7 linked regions of the Homo sapiens genome follow. The protein of the gene in region 1 interacts with the protein of each later gene in a pairwise test. Each region holds a gene or a part of one and is shown in the gene's direction. Other genes may lie near its edges. The genes, in order: TCF19, E2F6, NOXA1, DNAJA3, NGFR, ZNF474 and TRIB3.

Region 1 (3,127 bases):
GCCTCAGGACTTTGCTGCCATTACCATCCCACGGTCTAGGGGAGAAGCCCGGGTTGGGGCTGGTTTCCGGCCTATGCTGCCCTCCCAGGGGGCTCCACAGCGGCCTCTCAGCACCTTCTCCCCTGCCCCCAAGGCCACACTGATCCTAAACTCCATAGGCAGCCTCAGCAAGCTCCGGCCCCAGCCCCTCACCTTCTCCCCTAGTTGGGGTGGACCAAAGAGCCTGCCTGTTCCCGCCCCACCTGGGGAAATGGGGACCACGCCTTCTGCTCCACCACAACGCAATCGGAGGAAATCTGTTCACCGAGTGTTGGCGGAACTGGATGATGAGAGTGAGCCTCCTGAGAACCCGCCACCGGTCCTTATGGAGCCCAGGAAGAAACTCCGTGTAGACAAAGCCCCACTGACTCCCACTGGGTAAGTGGAGTCCTCACTTGGCCCTCTCAGTGTTTTACTGCTTTTCGATTCCTTGTATCCCTAGGCTGTGAGGAGGTCCCCCTGCCTGGGGGGATGGGCACGGGAGGTGGAATAGATGGAATGGCAAGACCTGGGTTAGCTCTGATAGGAAAAGAAAAATATGTGCAGGAGAACATGAGAGGTGGGGTGGGGCAGTGCTTATAAAACAACCGGAGTGAGCATGTCCTGCTTTTTACATTCATATGGCTTTAACCCCATTCTTCTAGTGCCTAAGGATGGGGAACTTTCAGGCTCATACTAGAGGTTTTTAGGCCCACCCTATGTGTTTTTAAGGACAGAGTCCAGGCTCACCTTAGTTCTCAGACCACTGTGCCTCTGTGGCCTCACCCTATGACCAGCCATAGGGTGGCAAGGTCTAGGCCTTCTCCTACAGGTTTCCGGTGACCCTTGTGTCTGTGTCACTTCCTTCAGAAATCGACGTGGCCGTCCTCGGAAGTACCCAGTGAGCGCTCCCATGGCTCCCCCTGCAGTTGGGGGCGGGGAGCCCTGTGCAGCTCCTTGTTGCTGCCTGCCCCAGGAAGAGACAGTGGCCTGGGTTCAGTGTGATGGCTGTGACGTCTGGTTCCATGTGGCCTGTGTTGGCTGCAGCATCCAGGCTGCCAGGGAGGCCGACTTCCGATGCCCAGGGTGCCGGGCTGGCATTCAGACCTAAGGTCCACTGCCAAGGCACCATCGGACACACCTGCCCATGAGTAGACACAGCAGCGAGCAAATAGGTCTGATAAATACCCCCCTTCCCTTCCCTCCCCAGGAGGGAATGACTACAGGGAAGAAGGATGGATTGATGTGGACTCATTCAGGGCCTGGAGCAGACCCTGGTGGCCAAGACAGAAGAGATGGTTTCCTGCCAAAGATATTGCCACCTCCAGGAAATTGCCAGTGAGCTGGAAGTTCCCACTATTACAAGCCATAAGGCCATGTTGCCATGGACACCAGAATATCTGTAGTCAGAGCACCTATCAGTTGCAAAAGCCATGCCTGCAACCGATGGAAAATGTAAGAGGGAGTTCTTAAGGTTCTTGGTGGCATCACCCAAGGCATTCTGGGAAAACCTAGGGCCTGGCCCCAAAACTTCCCTACTCTGTGGCTAGTCCTGCTGCCAACAAAATCGTAGCGACCTGGCTTTTCACAGCTTTGCTTTTATTTCCAAGTCAAGGACAAGCCGCTTCATTCACTCCTGGGCATTTACTCTTCTTGTGGGTCTGTGATATTCCTTGCTTTCCAGGGAGAATGTGCTTGGCAAGGTCTGGAGAACTAATTCAGAATCTTAGGGGAAGGGGAGAGATGGAAATACAAACCTGCTTACTGGAAAGGTGCAAATATATGGGTTGAGCTGGAGGTAGGAATACAGGTAATTAAGGTTTCTAGTTTAAGGGAAAACAGATCTATTGCCATTTAAATAAGGTAACTGGGATTTGGTTAAGTTCACAAAGATAGCAGAAGATTTATTTACAGGCTTCACCTGTACTGTCAGGGCAAGAGAAAGCCTGGTAAACCAGCTACAGCAGTTTACCAGTGTGATGGCTGTGACACAGCTCCACTCCACGGGTGGACACAGCAGAGGGCAACTGGGCTGGCCTGGTTCAGTGTGAATCAAACCGCTTAACCCACACATGGTACATGTGATTTTCTTTTGTGAGCCTTACACCAAGCCAAACTATTGTCAAAGCATCATTTCTATAGAAATAAAGCCTTATCTTGACCTGTTCTATTAAAACCTGCCACACCCGCCCTTTCCTACCTAGATTTAATGAGCCCAAGTTTTTAAAATGGAAGAAATGACTCTGGGGCAAAGACCCCTAATGAACTAGTGGCAGAGCCAGGAATAAAACTTGAGTAACTAATGAGTCACTTATGGGCAGAGTATGCAAAAACCTTAAGTGGAAACCAAATAGACCCTGGTATCAAGAAAGCACAAAGTATTAATAGAAGTTTCTGGTTGGGGTGATCTAGGTTCAACAGAAATAAGATGATTTCTAAGTATAAAGCCATTTAAGAATTCCAGAGTAGGGTGGGAAAGCAAAAAGCCAGCTCTGAACAGGTAACAGCTACATGGTGACTGAGTCTATGGGCAAAAGTTCTTGCATCACAGGCTTTTGGGAACTAGCCTATCACAGGGCCCTGTACAAATAAACTTGGCTGCAATCCCAGCTCTCCCTCTGATGTTGTGTGACCTTAAGGAGTGTAAATGGCACCTTAGTTTCAGGGTCACTTGGGTATGAGCATTGGATATTCCCATCCCTACCTCAGTAACTGAAGGACAAACCAAGATAAGTGTGTCTATCTACTGTGTCCCAGGCTTCTTTATTTAAGAAAAAAGTGATACATGATGTGGGATTAAAATCAAGAGCATCATTGAACTTCACCTTCCCTCCAACCAGTTGCCCCAAACTCCCCTGCCCCCACCCTTTGTGTTCCCAATTCCTTCCTTAGTGAATGAAGAACTTAATCCCAAAAACCCTGGCACAAACTCCAGGTTTTCTTTCCCTAGCTCCTCCCCTCCCCCTGTCCCCCATTCCTAGAAGGGCAGGCACCTCAGTTTGAATGCATGGGAGAGCCCAGAGTGGTGACGGAGACAGGGGGAAAGGCTTCCCCCTCAGGGAAAGGGACCGAGGAGTACAGTGCAGTGAAGTGAGGGCTCCCATAGCCT
Region 2 (3,500 bases), on another chromosome or scaffold:
TTAAAAGAAACAAGGCAGTAGAGAATGGGTAGACAGAGCAGACCAGGCCCTTGTAGGCTGTTTCTTGCTTAATGCCGCAGCCTCTTCTTCCAGCATGCTGCCGCCCTCCTCCACAGCACAAGCTACACCACCTGTGATCCCCAAAGCACCCCAGGTTCTCTAAGTCTGCTTTGTCTTCTGAGGTGTGGTTTCCTCTCCCTCACTTCAGCCCCTCACCCTCTGTCACAGTGGGCAAACACCGCCCATTCGCCTTCCTGTTCCCTATGCCCAGTGTACTCCCATCAAGAGGCCTTCCCAGTTTCCCCCTCCAGTGAAGGTTTGATTTCTTGCCATCGGGTGACTTTGAATACCTCTCTTAGCACTTACCTCAGGACATATAATAGAGTTCCTTATTAGACTACGGAGTTGCTTTGGTGTGAAGACCTCTGTAATCCTATTCATATCCCCTCAGCAACTGTCACATTTTTGGTGTTCCGTTGTACATGTTCTTTATAAAATAACATAGAAATATGCTTATCCTGAGCATATAAGACCATGCCTTGTTAATAATTAGTATAATTAAATATATGCTTTTTAAAGTTAGAATTTCTCATTTGTAATCTTCCTGAGTTTGTTGTAGAATTGTGACCCTCTACTTCCGATTAAAAATCCTTTTAAATTCCTAATTTACGCCTATTTAATCTTAAGTGTAGGAATGGGCTCCAGAGAGAAGACATTTATATTATGAAATATGTACCTTTGTTCCTGAAGTAACCGCCAGTGGTCTTTAAACTAAATGTGACATTGTGGAGGTTCTGAGTAAGGACATTTCTGACTGAAGGTAGGATGGACATTTCTTTGAGGCATACTGACTGTGGTGTGCTGTGGAAGTAGAGAAAAAGAAAGTCATATATTCCACACCAGAGTGACAAAGTTATTTTAGAAATTATTTTTTCTGCAAACCAAGCCATAAGAACTTTTTCTTAGTATCAAATTGGAAAAGATGACAAGATACTTAGTTCTGGCGAGCATGTGAGATGAGGCCCGTGTATACTGCATAGAATGGATAGAACCCACAACCTGCAGAGCAGTTTAGCGGCACATATCAACATTCCTTAAAAATGTCCAGTTAAGGGGACATACAGTAGTTTCGCAACAAAAAGGTTCATTGAAATATGAAGCAAAATCGTAAAGTTGGAGATGGTCTAATTTCTAATATTGGGATAAATAGCAAATACTGCATACAGTTAAGCATGCAGCCATTAAGAATAATGTTGAAATACATTTGTTGACATGTCAGGATGTTCACAATATGGAGTTAAAAGAACGTGTTGCAAAATTGCATGGTCCTATTTTTGTTTTTAAAAACTATATATATGATTGGCACACAAGTGTGAATGTGTTAGAGGTGTGTGTGTGTATGAAAACCCCAGTCATTATAGTAGGTGAGTGAGGGAATTAAGGGATTTTTTTTTTGTCTATCTGTTAAATTAATATAGGGTAGTGAATATTTTTAAAAATAGAGATACTGGGCCAGCCGCGGTGGCTCTTAATGCCTGTAATCCCAGTACTTCGGGAGGCTGAGGCAGGTGGATCACAGGGTCAGGAATGAATTCAAGACCAGCCTGGCCAATATGGTGAAACCCCGTCTCTACTAAAAATGCAAAACAATTAGCCAGGCGTGCTGGTGCATGCCTGTAATCCCAGCTACTCCGGAGGAGAATTACTTGAACCCTGGAGGCGGAGGTTGCAGTGAGCCAGGATCGCGCCACTGCACTCCAGCTCCAGCCTGGGCAACAGAGCGAGACTCTCTCAAAAAAAAAAAAAAAAGAGAGAGATACCACTGTTGCTCGAGGTATGTCATAATTGTCTTAATAGAAGACTAGTTTGGGCTCTTTCAAAAAAATTCATCAGACAACTTACACTATGACATGGATAGAGTCATTAAAAGGGGAAAAAAAGCCGCCAATTCTCTGCCTTTGCTTTGTAAAGAATTCCTTAACTTGAAGACCAAATGAGAAATTTAATTTTAAAAATCATGTGTAATTCTATTCCTGAGAGTGGTATGGATGCAAATTAATCTCACTGCTTTGTCCGAGAAGATACAGTAGACTTGTGAAAGTCCACATGTTCGGTGGACACTGGTTGCATATTTCAAATCCTCCTTTGTTTAAATCTAAAGCCTTTGTTTAGAGCCAGGATAGGCCAGTGAATTTTTTCTCCAATTTAAGAGATTTATTTCATAGAAACCAGCTTTGATTTGGTCAATGTGTAGGCATTTCTGTAGATGTCTGCTATCTGATCAAGAGGAAACAGATGATTTTTAAAAATGAGTTGAGAAATGTTATTTAAAATTTTACAAATATGTTTATTTTGTTTCCCAGAAGCTCTAAAAGTGAAGAGACCTCGTTTTGATGTATCGCTGGTTTATTTAACTCGAAAATTTATGGATCTTGTCAGATCTGCTCCCGGGGGTATTCTTGACTTAAACAAGGTTGCAACGAAACTGGGAGTCCGAAAGCGGAGAGTGTATGACATCACCAATGTCTTAGATGGAATCGACCTCGTTGAAAAGAAATCCAAGAACCATATTAGATGGATGTGAGTTGCTTTCAAACTTTTTCGTGGCTTTTGTTCCTTCTCATCAAGTGACAATTCCATGCTTAAACTAGATAGTGGCAGTGTTTTGACAATATAATACAAAGGTACGACTTCTTGTTAGAAGAGAATTCTATAAAATTTTCTTGCATCATCCTAGAGAGTACATAAATTTTTTAAAAAGTATTTCCTCAGTTCCAATTGATTATTGATATTGGGAAAATTTGTTAAGGTTGTAAAACAGTGGTTTTCACACAGAAGTGTAGTAAACACCTAGAGGCTTACTGCCTCTGGAGTTGTAATTCGGTAGGTCTGAGGGAAAGCAGGAAAGTACATTCTCAACAGGTAGCCCAGGAGATTATGACGTAGCGAGGTGTTTAAAATACTGCCCTGAATATTAAAAAAAAAAAAAATCAGACAGTGTCTAAAAGACAGTTGCTAAAGACTTGACATGATGAGGAGAAATCCAATGGAAAGGGAAGCTTAAGACATTGACATAGATAAAGGTATCTGTGTGTGCACACATGAGAATGCTGTTGTACCTAGAATAGGCAAGTATTTGGGGACAGGGAGAAATAGTTACAGCAAATAAGTACATAGTGACCTCTCAGGCAAATGAAAACCTACCAGCAAAGACCATAAAATGACCCTAAATAATTAACTTAGTTATTAGAGGAAAGGGATTCATAAAGGAGGTAATTTTTTCAATAGTACAGAAGTACAGGTTGAATTCTAATTTGAGCATGTTTACTAAATAACACTAAAAAACACTTTAGGAGTTTATATCGGCATGCATTGTGAATCACTAATTAGAATCAGATTTGAAAACTACCAAGTAAAAGATAAAGGCAAGGACCTTTCCCTATTTATTTTCCATTAAGATTGAAAGAAAAAAATGAAAATCAGTTGTTGCCTGGTCATAT
Region 3 (3,500 bases), on another chromosome or scaffold:
CTGGGGGGATGCCTGTGTGCCTGCCACAGATAGCGAGGTCCCCGGGGGGGTGCCTGTGTCCCTGCCACAGACAGCGAGGTCCCAGGGGGGTGCCTGTGTCCCTGCCACAGGTAGCGAGGTCCCGGGGGGGGTGCCTGTGTCTCTGCCACAGCTAGCGAGGTCCCGGGGGGCGGGGGTGCCTGTGTCCCTGCCACAGATAGCGAGGTCCCGGGGGGTCTCCCTGTGTCCCTGCCACAGATAGCGAGGTCCCTGGGGGGGTCCCTGTGTCCCTGCCACAGATAGCAAGGTCTCACGGGGGCAGGGGCTGCAGTCCGACGGTCTGGGCCACGTCACGCCCACACTTGGGTCAGAGCCAGGCAACACCCCTAAAGTCACAGGAATGGGGAGCTGCTCACCCCCAAAGGCAGCGGGCGAAACATGGCGGAGAAGAAGAACTCCTGGTGGGCAAAGACTGGGTCACCCTTGGCTGGCCACGCCCCGGACTGGCCACGCCCCATTGGCTGGCCACGCCCCCTCGGTCACCTGCGCTGCGCCACGGCCGACTCCTGGGCCCAGTGCAGCTGCCCAGCAGGGGAGGCCTGGGGTGGGCGAAGCCGGGCTCTGAGCTGTGTTAATGCATTAACTTAGAGTCCGCATATCACAGTAGAGTGCTGTTTATAAGAAACCAAAATGTTTTTAAAGTTGTGCTAAAAATAAGTTAACATTGCAGCAGATGTTTTTCTCCATCAGACATTTCCCTCCATGGTGGTCTGGCAGACGTGGGCCGGGCATGGGCAGCTGTCACCCAGCCCCCGGGGACTTAGAGCTGCGGGGCACGGTGGGGCGGGCTGCAGGGAGCAGACCCTGCTGGGCCGCTGATCCCTGACCCAGCGTCCCCACTGTCCCCGCCAGGTGGTGGCCTCTGCCATCCCCGACGACCAGGGCTGGGGCGTCCGCCCTCAGCAGCCACAGGTGGGTTTGCGGCCCCTCAGACCCCTGCCTGGCCTCACCCAGCTTTCTGGGAAAGAAAATGCTGCACAAGCTCTGAGCCCTCCTGGGGCTGCGAAGTTCCTCTGATGGGAGGTGTGGGGTGGCCATCCCATCCCTGTGTAAGACCTGGGGAAACCACTCTTCAAGGTTCAGGAGGAGGGAGGGCGGCCCCCGACCCTTAACCAGAGCGAGGTTGTTGCTTTGTGTCCACAGGGACCAGGAGCGAACCATGATGCCAGGTAGGAGGGGCTGACTGGGCCCTGCGAGCGCGTGCCTTTCCTGCTGGGCAGAGGCCCTCCACATGGGGCCACGCGGGCCGGGCACAGGAGGGCAGTCAGATGGGCAGGGCCTGAGAGCCTCCCTCCTCTCCCTAGGTCCCTAATCATGGACTCCCCAAGAGCTGGCACCCACCAGGGCCCCCTCGATGCAGAGACAGAGGTCGGTGCTGACCGCTGCACGTCGACTGCCTACCAGGAGCAGGTGCGTGGGCCTGGGCCTCTTCCCCTGCTGGGGGTCGGTGCTTCTGCTGCCTCCGCAGACTGGGGACCACAATGGGACCAACATGAGGGTGGAGGGAGCAGCTCGCTGGGGGGTAGACGGGGCCGGGCTCACCCGTGGTCCTGGCCCAGCCCAGCCAGATGGGAGGATGCCTGGCTGTGCCCGAGGCGAGTGGGCATTGGCCATCAGGACAGGAGAGAGGTGGTGTCCAGTGGAGACATCCACGTAGCCCTGCAGGCCCTCAGCCCCCAGGACCACCTCAGTTTGGCCATTGCCCCTCCCCTCCCACTGGGGTGCGAGTGACCAGGAGTGACCCAGCTGGGGACAGGCGGGAGGCAGGACAGCTCTGGAGGGGCCCCAAGGCTCCCGCCCCCCATGGGGGCCCAGCAGCGACTCCATCCCCCGAGTCCTCCCGGACACCCCGGCACCTGGGGAGAGGCGGAGGAAGGCAGGAACCCCAGCTGCTCCCAGGGTGGCAGCCGTGGGCGGAGGCTCTGCTGCAGGATCCGGGAGGCCCAGAGAAGGCACCTGCATTTCACGCTGAGCGCATCTGAGGATGCGATCAGGAAGCAGCCCCGGCACTCTCTCTTTATGGATGCCCACTTCCAGTTTAACCGTGGCATCCCGGGGGCAAGGGCGCCCTCCAAGCTGTGCTTCACTAATTCCCTCAGGGTTTGGAACTATTTGCCCAGTTCCCACGATGGGCCTTTAAGCTCTCGTCCTTCCTAACCTAAGGCAACTTCAACCATCTGATAAATCTAATAATAAGTTACAATCGAGGCCGGGCACAGTGGTCTGTAATCCCAGCACCGTGGGAGGCTGAGGTGGAAGGATTGCTTGAGCCTGGGAGGTGGAGGCTGCAGTGAGCCATGACAGTGCCACTCCACTCCGGCCTGGGCAAGACAGCAAGACCCTGTCTCAAAAAAAAAAAAAAAAAAAGCCAGGCGAAGTGGCTCACGCCTGTAATCCCAGCACTTTGGGAGGCCTAGGCAGGCGGATCACAAGATCAGGAGATCGAGACCATCCCGGCTAACATGGTGAAACCCTGTCTCTACTAAAAAATACAAAAAATTAGCTGGGCATGGCGGCGGGCACCTGTAGTCCCAGCTACTCAGGAGGCAGAGCCAGGAGAATGGCGTGAACCCAGGAGGCGGAGCTTATAGTGAGCCAAGATGGCGCCACTGCACTCCAGCCTGGGCGACAGAGCGAGACTCCCTCTCAAAAAACAACAGCAATGCCTGACCCTCAGGGTCTAGCCAGCGCTGGGCTGTGACTTTGTGACTTGCAGCTGGTGAACTGGTCTCCTGCTCAGTGCCCAACTCAGGGCACACGGTTAATGTCGAGCCCACACAGAGGCCGGGGCCCAGGGACTGGGTCCTCAGCTTCCTGGGGTCACTGGGGAGCCCACCCACCTGGAGCTGCCACCTCGGTGGGCCTTGGGGGACGGGGCGCTCCCTCCTGGTGACAGGCAGCCTCTAGGTCTGCAGGGACCCAGCCCCATCCTAAGGCAGCCGACTTGTGGCCAGTGCCCTGAATTCAACACCCACAGACCACCTGCTGGGTGCTGGCCGGGCACACAGGCCACACCCTTGGTGTGGGCTCTGCGAGGACAGTACCGGCCTCCAGCACCTGACCGCCCCAGCCCACCCAGCCTGTGCTTCTCTTGCAGAGGCCCCAGGTGGAGCAAGTTGGCAAACAGGCTCCTCTCTCCCCAGGTATGGGCGTCCTCAGCGGCGGGGTCCCCGGGTGAAGGAGGAAGCTGCTGGTGCATGGGTGCCGGCTGCCCTCCACCCACAGGGCCCACTTTGGTGGTAGTGGCTGTGTCAGTCTTGCTCTGTCCTACAGGGCTGCCGGCAATGGGGGGGCCTGGCCCCGGCCCCTGTGAGGACCCCGCGGGTGCTGGGGTAAGAGGCTCTAGACCCTTCACCTGTCAGTCACCTGAGGGAGGCTGAGGCCAAGCCCCATCCCTCAGAATCAAGGCTTGCAAGCCCCCCTCACCTGCCCAGTCTCTGTCCACACCCCTCGGGCTGAAG
Region 4 (3,500 bases), on another chromosome or scaffold:
ATCTCTACAAAAAGATTTTTTTTTTTTTTTTTTTTTTTTGAGACGGAGTCTCACTCTGTCGCCCAGGCTGGAGTGCAGTGGCACGATCTCGGCTCACTGCAAACTCCGCCTCCCGGGTTCAGGCCATTCTCCTGCCTCAGCCTCCCGAGTAGCTGGGACTACAGGCACCTGCAACCGCGCCCAGCTAATTTTTTGTATTTTTAGTAGAGATGGAGTTTCACTGTGTTAGCCAGGACGTCTCGATCTCCTGACCTCGTGATCCACCCGCCTCCGCCTCCCAAAGTGCTGGGATTACAGGTGTGAGCCACCGCGCCCGGCCAAGATTTTTTTTGTTTGTTTGTTTGAGACGGAGTCTTGCTCTGTAGCCAGGCTGGAGTGCAGTGGTGCGATCTCGGCTCACCATGATCTTGACTCACCGTGATCTCGGCTCACCGCATCCTCCGCTTCCTGGGTTCAAGTGATCCTCTTGCCTCAGTCTCCTGAGTAGCTGGGACTACAGGCACGTGCCACCACTCCCAGTTAATTTTTGTATTTTTAGCAGATACTGGATTTCACCATATTGGCCAGGATGGTCTCGATCTCTTTACCCATGATCTGTCCACCTCAGCCTCCTAAAGTGCTGGGATTACAGGTGTGAGTCACCGCGCCCGGCCTACAAAAAGATTTTTAAAAATTAGCTGACTGTGGCCGGACATGGTGGCTCACGCCTGTAATCCCAGCACTTTGGGAGGCCTATGCGGGCGGATCACCTGAAGTCAGGAGTTTGAGACCAGCCTGATCAACATGGAGAAACCCCGTCTCTACAAAAAATACAAAATTAGCCAGGCCTGGTGGCGCATGCCTGTAAACCCGGGTACTCGGGAGGCTGGGGCAGGAGAATTGCTTGAACGTGAAAGTCGGAGGTTGCCGTGAGCCGAGTTAGCGCCATTGCACTCCAGCCTGATCAACAAGAGCGAAACTGTGTCTCAAAAAAAAAAAAATTAGCCAACTATGGTGGCAACTGCCTGTACTCCCAGCTGCTTGGGAGGCTGAGGTGGGAGTTTCACTTGAGCCCAGAAGGTTGAGGCTGCAGTGAGCCATGATGATGCCACTGCACTCCAGCCTGGGCAACAGAGTATGACTCTTTCTCTACCAAAAAATTAATAAAGTCATCAACTGAGAAGCCATGTGGTGGCGAGCCTCTATAGTCCTAGCTACTCAGGAGGTTGAGGTGGGAGGATTGCTGGAGTCCAGGAATTTGAATTTGGCCTAGGCAACATAATGAGACCCCTGTCTCTTAAAAAAAAAAATTTTGAAAAGGTCATTAACTCAGCGTCCAAACACTAGTCTGTGATCTTGTCTCAAATCTAGTAGTAAGATGACATAACAACATTTTAGATGTGACTTTTCTTCCAAGCAGAAAGAAAGCAGTTGTTGGTGGCCAGGTATGGTGGCTCATGCCTGCAATCCCATTACTTTGGGAGGTGGGTTGATCGCCTGAGGTCAGGAGTTTGAGACCAGCCTGGCCAAGATGGCCAAAGCTTGTCTCTACTAAAAATAGAAAAAGTTGGTCAGGCGTGGTGGCGGGTTCCTGTAATCCCAGCTACTCGGGAGGCTGAGACAGGAGAATCGCTTGAACCCAGGAGGCAGAGGTTGCAGTGAGCCGAGATCGCGCCACTGCCCTCCAGCCTGGGCAACAAGAGCCAAACTCCCTGTCAAAAAAAAAAAAAAAGAAAGCAGTTGTTGGACAGTGGGTTGGCCATTCTTAGAACGACTTGGAGGCTTATTTTATTCTGGGTTGTTCTAAAAAGGACAGGACATTTACTGGTCATATGTGATAAAATAAATAGTCTATTAAATGAAATCTAATTATTGTTAATCATTGATGCCCTATGGATAATGTCAAAAGTCATCAGACTGGGGATGGTGGCTCATGCCTGTAACCCCAGCACTTTGGTAGGATGAGGCCGGCGGATCACTTGAGGTCAGGAGTTCGAGACCAGCCTGGCCAACATGGTGAAACTTCTTACCTACTAAAAATACAAAAATTAGCCAGGTGTGGTGGTGTGCGCCTATAGTCCTGGCTACTTGAGAGGCTAAAGCAGAAGAATCGCTCGAACCTGGGAGATGGAGGTTGCAGTGAACCGAGATCACACCACTGCACTCCAGCCTGGGTGACAGAGTGAGACTCTGTCTCAAAAAAAGAAAAAACAAAGCCATCAGTCTTGTAATTAAACGTGATTTGTCTTTATCCACATGCAGTTTTGTGCGTTACTATCTCTGTACTAACTCCTGTCCGTGTTCTCTGCCCGTAATGTTGAAGCCACAGCTGCCACAGGTCACTACCAGCCTCCGCCTTGTGGCATTGGAATGAGTGGTGAGAGAGAGGCTGGACTGGGCCGGGCAACCCCTTACTCCGAAATAAAAAGAGGGTTGAGTACAAGTTCAATAATAAGTCAGGTCTAGTGTTTTCTCAAGTCTGACTGAAGAAACACAAAGTGGTCTCCTGACCCCTACTACTTCCAGTGTGCTTTTTGTATCCCGAGGATATTGGGTGTGCCAAACACACGGATTTATTTCCTATTTCTAATTTTAAGTATCCTGACCATTCCTATCCATTCTCCTGTCTGATCATCCTTTACCTGGCCTCCTACTTGGATGTGCTCAACCAACCTCTGGTTGTGTTTTGTGCTGATTAACTTCGAGTAGTCTCCCAGGCTTCCTAGAGTTGTTTCTCTTTTTTTTTTTTCAGGTGGAGTCTTGCTCTGTCGCCCAGGCTGGAGTGCAATGGCGCGATCTTGGCTCACTGCAACCTCAGCCTCCCAGGTTCAAACAATTCTCATGCCTCAGCCTCCCAAGTAGCTGGGATTACAGGCGTGCACCACCATGACCGGCTAATTTTTGTATTTTTAGTAGAGACAAGATTTCACCATGTTGGCCAGCTTGGTCTCGAACTCCTGACCTCAAGTGATCCACCCGCCTCGGCCTCCCAAAGTGCTGGGATTACAATAGGCGTGAGCCACCTTGCCTGGCCTAGAGTTGTTTCTCATGCAAACCTAATGGGTTCTTTGTTTAACATTTGCAGTGGCTCCCTATTGCTCTTAGGATAAAATCCAGACTCCTTAGCATAGCTCTAAGGCCCTTCCTATTCCTAGGCCCCATTAATCGTTATCATCTCTAACCACCACTACCACCACTGCCATCTAGTTTAGTTATAGGTATAAATCTGTATGGATTCAAAGTCCTCTTTAGCCTATTTCTGTCTCTCTCTCTTTTTTTTCCATGTCATAAGTTTATTTACAAACATCTAGTATGTCATATAAGTTCAAGTCTTTGATCCATTTATTTATTTATTTTTAATAGAGACAGGGTCTCTGTGTTGCCCAGGCTGGTTTCGAACTCCTGGGCTCAAGCGATCCTCACGCCTCAGGTTCCCAAAGTGCTGGGATTACAGGCGAGAGCCACTGTGCCCAGGCTTATTTTTCTTTCTTTTTTTTTTTCTTTTTTTTTTCTGTGATGGA
Region 5 (3,500 bases), on another chromosome or scaffold:
TTGCTGTAACCCCAGGATGAACTTTGCAGAAGGTCAGCAGCTGAAGCTCTGACCTCACACCCCCAGCAGCCTGCACGGGCACACTGTCCCTCACTTGCCTTTCCCCTGTCAGCTTTGATGTTCCTAACGCCTCCCTGGTGAGCTCATCCCAGCCCAGGTGGTTCTAATAGAAGGCAGTGGGAGGAGGGTGTTTGATTCCCCGGAAGAACCCCCCCCAACCCACCCCAGCTTTCTCTTGCCAGTCTGACCCTCCGATCTCCCTCCATCCAGGTGTCCCTTGGAGGTGCCAAGGAGGCATGCCCCACAGGCCTGTACACACACAGCGGTGAGTGCTGCAAAGCCTGCAACCTGGGCGAGGGTGTGGCCCAGCCTTGTGGAGCCAACCAGACCGTGTGTGAGCCCTGCCTGGACAGTGAGTAGAGGGTGGCGGGCAGGAGGAGGGGAGAAGAATGGGAGGGAGGAGAGGGGTGAAAGGGAGGGGCGCTGGGGAGAAGCATGCCCAGTAGAGGCCTTATAAGACCACCACTGTAAGGTCATCAGAAGTGGGTCTGACCCAGTGTAGGAGGCGCTTCTCCCAGATTCGAGAAGCTGAGAATGGAGAAGGGAAGTGTGCAGAGGGAGGAGGGGAACCCCATGGGGGATCTCCAAGGGGTGCCCATTCCCAGCTCTGGAGAAGGCAGAGGCTTGGTAGAAGAGTGTGGCTGGGCAGGGAGGAGTAGCTGATGCTAAGACCAGCTAAAAATATCATCTGCACTGCAAAATCAATGGCTGCCACTTATCCCCGGTGTGTTTGGGGGAAGGGAGAGGAGGATCAAATCCTGGCTGCCCTGAAGGCTGACCTTGGGGGATCCTGGGGGTGTGGCTGTTCCTCCCTACAGGCCAACTCTTCTCCAGCTTTGACCAGGAAGCAGAGTTTTCCCGAGGCAGCAGGGATGGGGGTCAGAGCGCCATGAAGACGTCCTTACTGTGGGGTGACAGAGGGGAGGGGAGACGGGGAGCTGTGCCCATTCCTGCCTGGGATTTCTTCCTTCCTTCCTTCCTTCCTTCCTTCCTTCCTTCCTTCCTTCCTTCCTTCCTTTCTCTCTCTCTCTTTCTTTACCTTTCTTTCCTTTCTTTCCTTTCCTTCCTTCCTTCCTTCCTTCAACAGAGTTTTGCTCTGTTGCCCAGGTTGGGAGTGCAATGGCATGATCTCAACTCACTGCAACCTCCACCTCCTGGTTTCAAGTGATTCTCATGCCTCAGCCTCCTGAGTAGCTGGGACTACGGGTGCATGCATGCCACCATGCCTGGCTAATTCTTGTATTTGTAGTAGAGATGGGGTTTTACCATGTGGACCAGGCTGGTCTCAAACTTCTGGCCTCAAGTGATCCACCTGCCTTAGCCTCCCAAAGTGTTGGGATTAGAGGCGTGAGCCACCGTGCTCGACCCTGCCTGGGATTTCTTTCAGGAGGGGAGAGAATCTCATCTTCCTGGGCTGGTGGGTCTGGGCCCCTTGGCCCCAGTCTTGTCCAGGGTCTGAATTCCCTCATGCTTTTGAGTCAGGAGTCTCGGTCCCTGATCGGTGCCCCCAGTCCTCAGTTGCTGCCTTTGGGCCGTGGGCTCCCTGCCCTTTTCCTGACTCCCTGCCTTCTACCTGGCACTCGATGCCCACCTGGAGGGCTCGAGGGAACCATACTCAGATTATTCTTTAATCCGGCTGGGAATAAGGGGATAGAGCTGGGGCCTCTGAACCCACCTGCGGACCTAGTGTTACCTCTGGATGTCCCCCCTGAGTCTATCTGTCCTCCAGGCAACCCCAACTCTTGGTGTTCCCCAGACACACTGTTTTCCCATCTCTGTGCTTGTGGATCCTGTAACACCATTCCCCAGCCAAGAAATGCCTGGGCGTATGTGTGGAGGTGGGACATCCTCCAATGCCTTTGCCGTCTTGCTTCATGGCCACCTGCTCTGGCCCTGGCCTAACAGGGTTTCCATTCCAGGGCGGGGGTGGCCAACCATCAGCTATCCCAGAACCTCCAAATCTGCCTCTCTTGCTTCCTAGACTCCAGCCCAGGACTCTCCTCCCAGGACCTAAATGATGGGAACCCTTTCCCTTCAGTCAAAGGACCTTCAGCAGGAGGTGGGGCGGAGGACACCAGGAGAGGGAAGTTCCAGAATCTCTGGAAGGGAAGGGAGGCAGGCAGAGAGGTGGCTTTGAGAATCCTCCCTTCCACTTCCTCCCTCCCCTCCATTTTCCCCTCCTTCCCTGTCTCCCCCTCCTCCACCTCCAGCTGCATTAACAGGCTGCCTTTACAAGCCCACTTTATGGGACGGAGACCCCAGCGGACTTTCCCTCTACCCTTAAAACGTTTCCACAAGGAAACCTATTAAGCCCCTGCCTTCATTCTCTGCCAAAAAAGACCACATTTTTCACACCACCTAAAACCCTCTCCCAGGAGTTTTCTGCTAATTTTCTGTGTTTTGCCATGAGCAGGCTTCTCCTCTTCCCCTCCTGTGTGACTAGACTTACCCTCCATCACACGCCAGCCAGCCAGGACCCTCTTGTTTGTATAGCTCAGACATCCTGCCTTTGCTGTTTGTGTTTGGACGTTCTTTCTGCTGTCTGACCATATTCCTACCTCCAAAGTTCAATGTCCTCATCGCTCTCCACCCCCATGGGGCCCAATCTTTATAGGATCCCAACTACGTGCCAAAGCTTTATGGCTGAATTTCATTTATTCCTCACTACAACCCTGTGACTGCAGATATTGCTCCTTATTTTTACAGAGAAAGAAAAAGCTCAGAGAGGTTAAGTAAAACACCCAAAGTCACACAGCTTATAAGCGATGGAAATGGATTTTGAATCCAGATCTGCCTGCTCCTAGGAAAAGGGACACAGGGTTCCTCTGTCAGAATTCACTTGAAACTGAAGTCTCCCTCCAGGCCCTTCTTCCTGGGTCTTTTCTTCTCTCCTCTACCCTTTTTCTTTCTTTCTTTCTTTTTTTTTTTTTTTTTTTTTTGACAGCGTCTCACTCTGTCACCCAGGCTGGAGTGCACTGGTGCAGTCTTGGCTCACTGTAACCTCTGCCTCCCATGCTCAAGCAATCCTCCCACCTCAGCTTCCCGAGTAGCTGGGATTACAGACGTGCACCACTACACCCAGCTAATTTTTGTATTTTTTATAGAGATGGGGTTTTGCCATGTTGGCCAGGCTGGTCTTGAACTCCTGGCCTCAAGTGATCTGCTCGCCTTGGCCTCCCAAAGTGCTGGGATTACAGGAGTGAGCCACCACGCCCAGCCTTTGTCCCCAGTTCTGCCCCTTTCACTTCTCTCTGGCTTTTCCTTCTTTGCCTCCTCATCCCCCCACCACACCCCCGAAGCCAGTGACCCCTTGCTCCATCTTGTCTCTGATGCCTTTGAATAATGTTGAGACCCCCCTACAGGCCTCAGTTTCCCCCTAATGGCGCTTTAGCCTTTCTGCTTCTGCTTCCACATTCTGAACAATCTGTCCTTCCCTGGTT
Region 6 (3,500 bases), on another chromosome or scaffold:
ATTAGTGTCTGCAATTTCCTAGTATCAAGGAAAATGATAAACTAAAATTCCTCGGTGAACAGAGCCAATAAAGCAGAATGGTTTGTGGAAATAACCCACGGGCTGGATTTAAAACCTAATGAAATAATTTTACCCTATTCCTATGTTCCATAGATCTACTTTCTCTTTTAGATGGTACTGATCGAGTGATAAATTTCTCTGTTTTATTTTCTATGCTGGCCACTCTGGGGCCAACACATACTTTTCCCACATCTGTTAACATTACTGTCTTAGAATCTGTCAAAATGAAGAATAACTTCTTTCTCTGTGCCAGACCTGATTTGATACTCTTAAAGGCAAGGATTCAGACCTTTGTTGGCACCAAAGTACAGGAGCTGGGCACAGATATCACAGCTCTTCTTGTTCTTTATCAAATCCAGTGCCCAGGGTTTCCATATTACCAGGACTGCTGGCCTTGCACTGTCCAAACTGAAGTGTTTGCCGTGATGTAGAGGATCCAGCTTCATACCAGGGGCTGCTCTTCTGTGGTTAAGAATGGATGCTTTAGAGTTTATCACCCTGATAAATGAAACGATAAAGGAAATGAAAAAGGTCCTGAGGCTTCTGAAATAATCTTTTTGGGGAGCCAGATTATAAACCCACGGTAAAATTTACTCATAACTTTTCCCAATATACAAATTTAAGATTCTTCCCATAAATGGATATCTAAGCTGCCACTTCTTCTGGTGGGGATCCTTGGGGAATCCAGGGCCTTTGTTTTATATTTAAAAATATTTGGAAGTCATACATATATAAAACAAGAAAGTAGGTATGATACCTTTTTAATAAAAAAAGAGCCTCAAGCAGCATCTGTGTATCATCTTTCCATGAAAGATCTGCAGATATCCCACCAGGATGGGTGCCGGCCTAGGCTGTACTCTTTGCTGGAGAATTATAGCTCCACTTTATTAATACCCTATTCCCATAATAAACAAAAGTGAATACATGATGTGTCACAAGAAGTTTATGTCCCTCTGAGGGCTATCCTGATAATCCTCATAAGATTCATTCTTGAATTACTTCTTCTGCAAGAGTTCTTAATTTCAGGTCCATGGACACTCAAGAAGTCTGTGACACAACTTTACCTCAATTAAAATGTATATCACAACTAGAAACAGTTGACAAATTATTTCAGTAAAACTGATTTCACCTGTGATAGCAACAATTTTTATTTTTACTTATAAAAATACTATTCTGAGAAGTGCATAGGCTTCACAGAATTGTCAAAGGAATCCATGTCACTAACAAGTTAAGGATCTCTGACGTAGTGGAAGTTTCTGTGGGGCCCAGGGGGTCTTTTCGTATGACCTGCTGATTTCATTAATCTAATATTCACAGTTTGCAGTTTTCTCTTCTATGGTCTCACCACCCTGGTCTCAGCCTCTATTGCTTTGCGTCTTCTGTATCTATGATGTGCTGTAATTGTCAAGTTAACTTTTTGGGCAGAACACGATTTTCAATACAGTGATAGTGCAATTGATGATGGAAGATTTCCTCAGGTTTATGTCAGTTTATTGACCAAATCCCATATGCTGGTTACTGTGCTAGTCAAAAAGTATACAAGGTCAATATTTAAAACAAGCAAAAAAAAAGCACACACACACACACAAAACAACCTAAATGTGTGTGTGTGTGTGTGTGTGTGTGTGTGTGTTTACATAATAACTTCTTATGTCTCCCACCCGCCTCCACAGATCTTGGAGACATCTCAGCTTTAATGAGGACTTTCCAACATTCCAGACTGCCGTCCTGCAATGAAGCTCTGAGTCACGGTCTGTGAGGCTAAGGTACTGGCAACGGTGTGAACCCCAGGACAACTAACCTCACTAACCTTCACTCTAAGCAGAAGCCCAAAGTGAGTCTGGCCTGAAATCAGAGCAAGCACTACAGAAAGACATCTTTGTTAATGGAAAGAGGAAAGAAGAAAAGAATTTCCAATAAGTTACAACAAACTTTTCACCATTCTAAAGAACCCACTTTCCTTATCAACCAAGCTGGGCTTCTCTCTAGTGACTCCTATTCTAGCCTTTCCCCAGAAACAGAGAGTGTTAATCCTGGTGAAAATATAAAGACAGACACTCAGAAAAAGAGACCTGGGACTGTGATACTATCAAAACTGTCAAGTAGAAGAATTATATCGGAAAGCCAGCTTAGCCCCCCTGTGATCCCGGCCCGCAGGCCTGGATTCCGGGTATGCTATATCTGTGGCCGAGAATTTGGGTCCCAGTCAATTGCCATTCATGAACCCCAGTGCTTGCAGAAGTGGCATATTGAAAACAGCAAGTTGCCCAAGCATTTGAGGAGGCCAGAACCCTCCAAACCACAGTCTCTCAGCAGCAGTGGGTCCTACAGTCTTCAGGCAACTAACGAGGCTGCATTTCAGAGTGCCCAGGCTCAGCTGCTGCCCTGTGAATCCTGTGGCCGCACATTCTTGCCAGATCATCTTCTTGTTCATCACAGAAGCTGCAAGCCAAAGGGTGAGGGTCCCAGAGCACCACACTCAAACAGTTCTGATCATCTTACTGGCCTCAAGAAAGCTTGTAGTGGAACCCCAGCCCGACCAAGGACTGTTATCTGCTACATATGTGGTAAGGAATTTGGCACCCTGTCCCTTCCTATTCATGAGCCCAAATGCCTGGAAAAGTGGAAAATGGAAAATGACCGGCTCCCTGTGGAGCTCCACCAGCCACTCCCACAGAAGCCTCAGCCCCTTCCGAATGCACAGTCCAGCCAAGCGGGACCAAATCAAGCTCAGCTTGTGTTCTGCCCACATTGTAGCCGAATCTTTACCTCAGACCGCCTCCTGGTACACCAGAGAAGTTGTAAAACTCATCCTTATGGGCCAAAATATCAGAATTTGAATTTAGGGAGTAAAGGAGGCCTAAAAGAGTACACTAATTCCAAGCAGCAAAGGAACAGGGCAGCACCCAGTGTAACTGATAAGGTAATTCATGCCACACAAGACGCATTAGGTGAACCTGGTGGTGCCCTCTGCCTGTAGGGGAACAAGAGAAAACTATCCCCAGAATCAGCCACCTCAGCCCCTAGTATTTTTTCTATCAATGCCTTGTATCAGCCTCAAAGCAGCCTGTTCAAGTTAACTCCCTGTTGAACTCCAGGGCCTATACCTCTCTTGGCTGAATAGATATAAGAACATCCTTGCCTGATGGGTTCATATTCCTCTTCAATTCTGCTGTCTAAAAGAAGAAGAGATGGACTTCTTTCTTCCCTGATCCCTGATACAAATAATCCCTGGGAGAGACAGTAATTTGAAAATGAGTCATTAATGCTGTGTCTACATTACAGAGATATAATTCCCATTCCAACAGCCAATATTTATTGTCGGTTTATTTTAGTCATCTACCTTAGGAATTCATTTTTGGCAATGCTGGGTTATGCTGAGTTTATCTTACTAAAATAGAATCTGTGTCAAAAACCCCCAATGACTTTAGCAACAATTA
Region 7 (3,500 bases), on another chromosome or scaffold:
GGAAGGCTGAGGCGGGAGGATCACCTGAGGTCAGGAGTTCGAGACCAGCTTAGCCAACATGATGAAACCCCATCTCTACTAAAAATACAAAAATTAGCTAGGTGCGGTGGCACATGCCTGTAATCCCAGCTACACTGGGGGCTGAAGCGGGAGAATCACTTGAATCCAGGAGGCGGAGTTTGCAGTGAGCTGAGATTGCGCCAGTGTGCTCCAGCCTGGGTGACAGAGCGAGACTCCGTCTCAAAAAAAAAAAAAAAAAAAAAAAGCACAGACAGTGGAGTGCATACGTGCAAATCTCAGCCGTGCTGTTTGCTGGCTGTGTGGCCTCTCAGCTTCGTTAACCGTAAAATGGAGCAAGTCATCCTACCTTATAGGACCATGGTCAGGGCTGAGTGACTCGGTCAGTGAAGCGCTTGGTGCGATGCCTAGCACATGGTAGTGTCTAATAGGTCAGCTGTGACTGTTTGCAATGCCAGCCTCAGCTCCCGGGAGTCCCCAGCTGTGCTAACACCATGCTCTGCCCACAGGTGTACCCCGTCCAGGAAGCCCTGGCCGTGCTGGAGCCCTATGCGCGGCTGCCCCCGCACAAGCATGTGGCTCGGCCCACTGAGGTCCTGGCTGGTACCCAGCTCCTCTACGCCTTTTTCACTCGGACCCATGGGGACATGCACAGCCTGGTGCGAAGCCGCCACCGTATCCCTGAGCCTGAGGCTGCCGTGCTCTTCCGCCAGATGGCCACCGCCCTGGCGCACTGTCACCAGCACGGTCTGGTCCTGCGTGATCTCAAGCTGTGTCGCTTTGTCTTCGCTGACCGTGAGAGGTGAGTGTGGTCTCAGAGACCCCAGCCACAGACACACCCAGGGGGTGGGCCATGATGGAGAGAAACCGAGGCCCAGGAAGGCAAGGTAACTTAGGCAAGAAGTGGGAGAAACTGAAGTAACCAGCAGCCCCTGTTTAGTTCCCTGAGAAGAGTTGACTCAGGCCAGGTGCAGTGGCTCACGCCTTTAATCCCAGCACTTTGGGAGGCCGAGGTGGGTGAATCACTTGAAGTCAGGAGTTCGAGACCAGCCTGGCCAACATGGTGAAACTCCGTCTCTACTAAAAATACAAAAATTAGCCTAGTGTGGTGGCGCACACCTGTAATCCCAGCTACTCTGAAGGCTGAGGCAGGAGAACTGCTTGAACCTGGGAGGCGGAAGTTGCAGTGAGCCAAGATCACGCCACTGCACTCCAGCCTCGGCAACAGAGTGAGATTCCATCTCAAAAAAAAAAAAAAGAGTTGACTCAGTCCTCTTGGGAGCCCCTTGGGATTCTGGGATGGAGCACTGAGATGTGAAAGTCATAGTAGCCGACAGTGACGAAAGCATCGCCACATTATCTAACGTGGTCTTCCATCCTTACAAACACGAGGCAGGTACTGTTATTATCCCCATATGATCAAGGAAACTGAGGCCCAGAGAGCTCAAGTAACTTGCCCAAGATCCCATAGCAGAATAAATGGTAGAGCTGGGATTTGAACCTAGATCTGACTCCAGAGCCTGGGTCTTAATTCAATCTGAGCTTGAGAGGCAGGGGCCTGGCTGGGCTTACCAACTGACTTTGGGTGACCTAGTGTCTCTGAGCCTCAGTTTCTCCGTTGGTAAGGAAAAGGGCTGGATTGTTAGGGTGTTTTCAGGATTCCAAGACCACAGCCAAAATAGGGTCTGAGGTTCCCCACACGGGAACGTTTTCTGTGAAACTGAGAATTAGCACTTTTTGGTTAAAAGAATCTTCCTTCTCTAGGTTGGGATGCTAAGAATTTTTTTTTTTTTAATTGAGACAGAGTCTCACTCTGTCACCCAGGCTGGAATGCAATGGCGCGATCTTGGCTCACTGCAACCTCTGCTGCCTGGGTTCAAGTGATACGCCTGCCTCAGCCTCCCGAATAGCTGGGACTACAGGCATGCGCCACCATGCCTGGCTCATTTTTTCTATGTTTAGTAGAAACGGGGTTTTGCCATGTTGGCCAGGCTGGTCTTGAACTCTTGACCTTAGGTGATCCGCCTGCCTCGGCCTCCCAAAGTGCTGGGATTACAGGTGTGAGGTACTGCACCCAGCCTAGACGCTAAGAAAAATTTTTAAAAGATAATTCTGGGGAGAAGGGCAGAGAGACTCGCCTCCTGTTCCCTCTCCAGATTCCTGGGGGCAGTCAAGATGTGTCAGGGAGTGCACTAAGCTGCCAGTTACACAGGAGTTTTCTGTGGAGAAAGGAGTGTGACCCCATGGCATTTTAAAAAACTTTTTATCTTGAAATAATTTTAGACTTTTAGAAAACCTACAAAAATAGTTCAAAGAGTTTCTGCATATCCTTTAACCAGTGCTCTCCAATGTTAACACCTGACGTAGCTATGGTACAATTACCCAAACTATTAACTAAGCCACAGATTGATTCCCACTTCCCGAGTTTCCCACTAACACCCCTTGCTGTGCAGGATCCAGTGAGGATCCCAATTTAGTCATCAGTGGTTTCCTTGGTCTCTTCCAATCTGAGACAGTTCCTCAGTCTTTCCCTGTCTTTGAAGACCCATGACCTTGACACTTTTTTTTTTTTGAGACAGGGTCTCACTCTGTCACCCAGGCTGGAGTGCAGTGGTGTGATCACAGCTCACTGCAGCCTCAACCTCCCGGGCTCAAGTGATCCTCCCACCTCAGCCTCCTGAGTAGTTGGTTCTACAGGTGTGTGCCACCCCACCTGGCTAATTGAGATGGGGTCTTGCTATGTTGCCCAGGCTGGTCTCAGACTCCTGAGCTCAAGCAATCTGCCTGCCTCAGCCTCCCAAAATCCTGGGATTATAGGCGTGAGCCACTGCTCCTGGCCATAACCTTGAGACTTTTGAAGAGTACTGATCAGTTACTTTGTATGTCCCTCAATTTGGATTTGATTGATGTTTTCTCACAGTTAGATTGCAGTTATGTATTTTTGGCAAGAACAACACAGAATCGATAGGCCCCTCTCCACATCATATCAAGAGATACTTGAGCTGATAGTCATTCCTATGTCGTGACCTTGATCACTTGGTTAGGGCAGGACCTACCAGGTTTCTCTACTGTAAGGTCCTAATTTACCCTTTGTAATTGACAAATACCTTGGGGGAGGTAAGCTAGGCATATAAATATCCTGTTTTTCCTCAACTTTCACCCACTAATTTTAGCAGCCATCCATCTTGCCTATAGCAGTTATTATTGTGGTGCTTGCCTAAGTCTAATTTTCTTTTTCTTTTTTTTCTTTCTTTCTTTTTTTTTTTTTTTTGAGACAGAGTCTCGCTCTGTTGCCCAGGTTGGAGTGCAGTGGCACGATCTCGGCTCACTGCAACCTCCACCTCCCGGGTTCAAGTGATTCTCGTGCCTCAGCCTCTTGAGCAGCTGGGATTACAGGCACACACCACCACACTTGGCTAATTTTTGTATTTTTAGTAGAGATGGGGTTTTGCCATGTTGGCCAGGCTGGTCTCGAAATCCGC

Evidence for each region.
Region 2: the proteins of TCF19 (region 1) and E2F6 interact in binary tests that used the Homo sapiens proteins (3 or more experiments, as listed by UniProt).
Region 3: the proteins of TCF19 (region 1) and NOXA1 interact in binary tests that used the Homo sapiens proteins (3 or more experiments, as listed by UniProt).
Region 4: the proteins of TCF19 (region 1) and DNAJA3 interact in a two-hybrid assay, tested with the Homo sapiens proteins (2 studies listed by BioGRID and IntAct).
Region 5: the proteins of TCF19 (region 1) and NGFR interact in a two-hybrid assay, tested with the Homo sapiens proteins (one study listed by BioGRID).
Region 6: the proteins of TCF19 (region 1) and ZNF474 interact in binary tests that used the Homo sapiens proteins (3 or more experiments, as listed by UniProt).
Region 7: the proteins of TCF19 (region 1) and TRIB3 interact in binary tests that used the Homo sapiens proteins (3 or more experiments, as listed by UniProt).

What each region holds. Positions count from the first base shown.
Region 1 is NC_000006.12:31,161,589-31,164,715, forward strand, and holds the end of TCF19 (transcription factor 19), read left to right. Parts: coding exon 1-417; intron 418-888; coding exon 889-1,129; 3' UTR 1,130-1,228; coding exon of another isoform or gene 1,229-1,238; 3' UTR 1,239-2,627; downstream 2,628-3,127. Other genes in the region: POU5F1 (POU domain, class 5, transcription factor 1), read right to left, coding at 3,013-3,127. UniProt on the Homo sapiens protein: Potential transcription factor that may play a role in the regulation of genes involved in cell cycle G1/S transition. May bind to regulatory elements of genes, including the promoter of the transcription factor FOXO1.
Region 2 is NC_000002.12:11,452,662-11,456,161, reverse strand, and holds part of E2F6 (transcription factor E2F6), read left to right. Parts: intron 1-687; exon of another isoform or gene 688-820; intron 821-2,363; coding exon 2,364-2,580; intron 2,581-3,500. UniProt on the Homo sapiens protein: Inhibitor of E2F-dependent transcription. Binds DNA cooperatively with DP proteins through the E2 recognition site, 5'-TTTC[CG]CGC-3'. Has a preference for the 5'-TTTCCCGC-3' E2F recognition site.
Region 3 is NC_000009.12:137,429,893-137,433,392, forward strand, and holds part of NOXA1 (NADPH oxidase activator 1), read left to right. Parts: intron 1-729; coding exon of another isoform or gene 730-858; exon of another isoform or gene 859-883; intron 884-891; coding exon 892-951; intron 952-1,182; coding exon 1,183-1,208; intron 1,209-1,343; coding exon 1,344-1,449; intron 1,450-3,136; coding exon 3,137-3,182; intron 3,183-3,312; coding exon 3,313-3,371; intron 3,372-3,500.
Region 4 is NC_000016.10:4,428,868-4,432,367, forward strand, and holds part of DNAJA3 (dnaJ homolog subfamily A member 3, mitochondrial), read left to right. Parts: intron 1-3,500. UniProt on the Homo sapiens protein: Modulates apoptotic signal transduction or effector structures within the mitochondrial matrix. Affect cytochrome C release from the mitochondria and caspase 3 activation, but not caspase 8 activation.
Region 5 is NC_000017.11:49,501,793-49,505,292, forward strand, and holds part of NGFR (tumor necrosis factor receptor superfamily member 16 precursor), read left to right. Parts: intron 1-270; coding exon 271-412; intron 413-3,500. UniProt on the Homo sapiens protein: Low affinity receptor which can bind to NGF, BDNF, NTF3, and NTF4. Forms a heterodimeric receptor with SORCS2 that binds the precursor forms of NGF, BDNF and NTF3 with high affinity, and has much lower affinity for mature NGF and BDNF.
Region 6 is NC_000005.10:122,150,046-122,153,545, forward strand, and holds part of ZNF474 (zinc finger protein 474), read left to right. Parts: exon of another isoform or gene 1-558; intron 559-1,733; 5' UTR 1,734-1,945; coding exon 1,946-3,040; 3' UTR 3,041-3,500.
Region 7 is NC_000020.11:390,760-394,259, forward strand, and holds part of TRIB3 (tribbles homolog 3), read left to right. Parts: intron 1-527; coding exon 528-820; intron 821-3,500. UniProt on the Homo sapiens protein: Inactive protein kinase which acts as a regulator of the integrated stress response (ISR), a process for adaptation to various stress. Inhibits the transcriptional activity of DDIT3/CHOP and is involved in DDIT3/CHOP-dependent cell death during ER stress.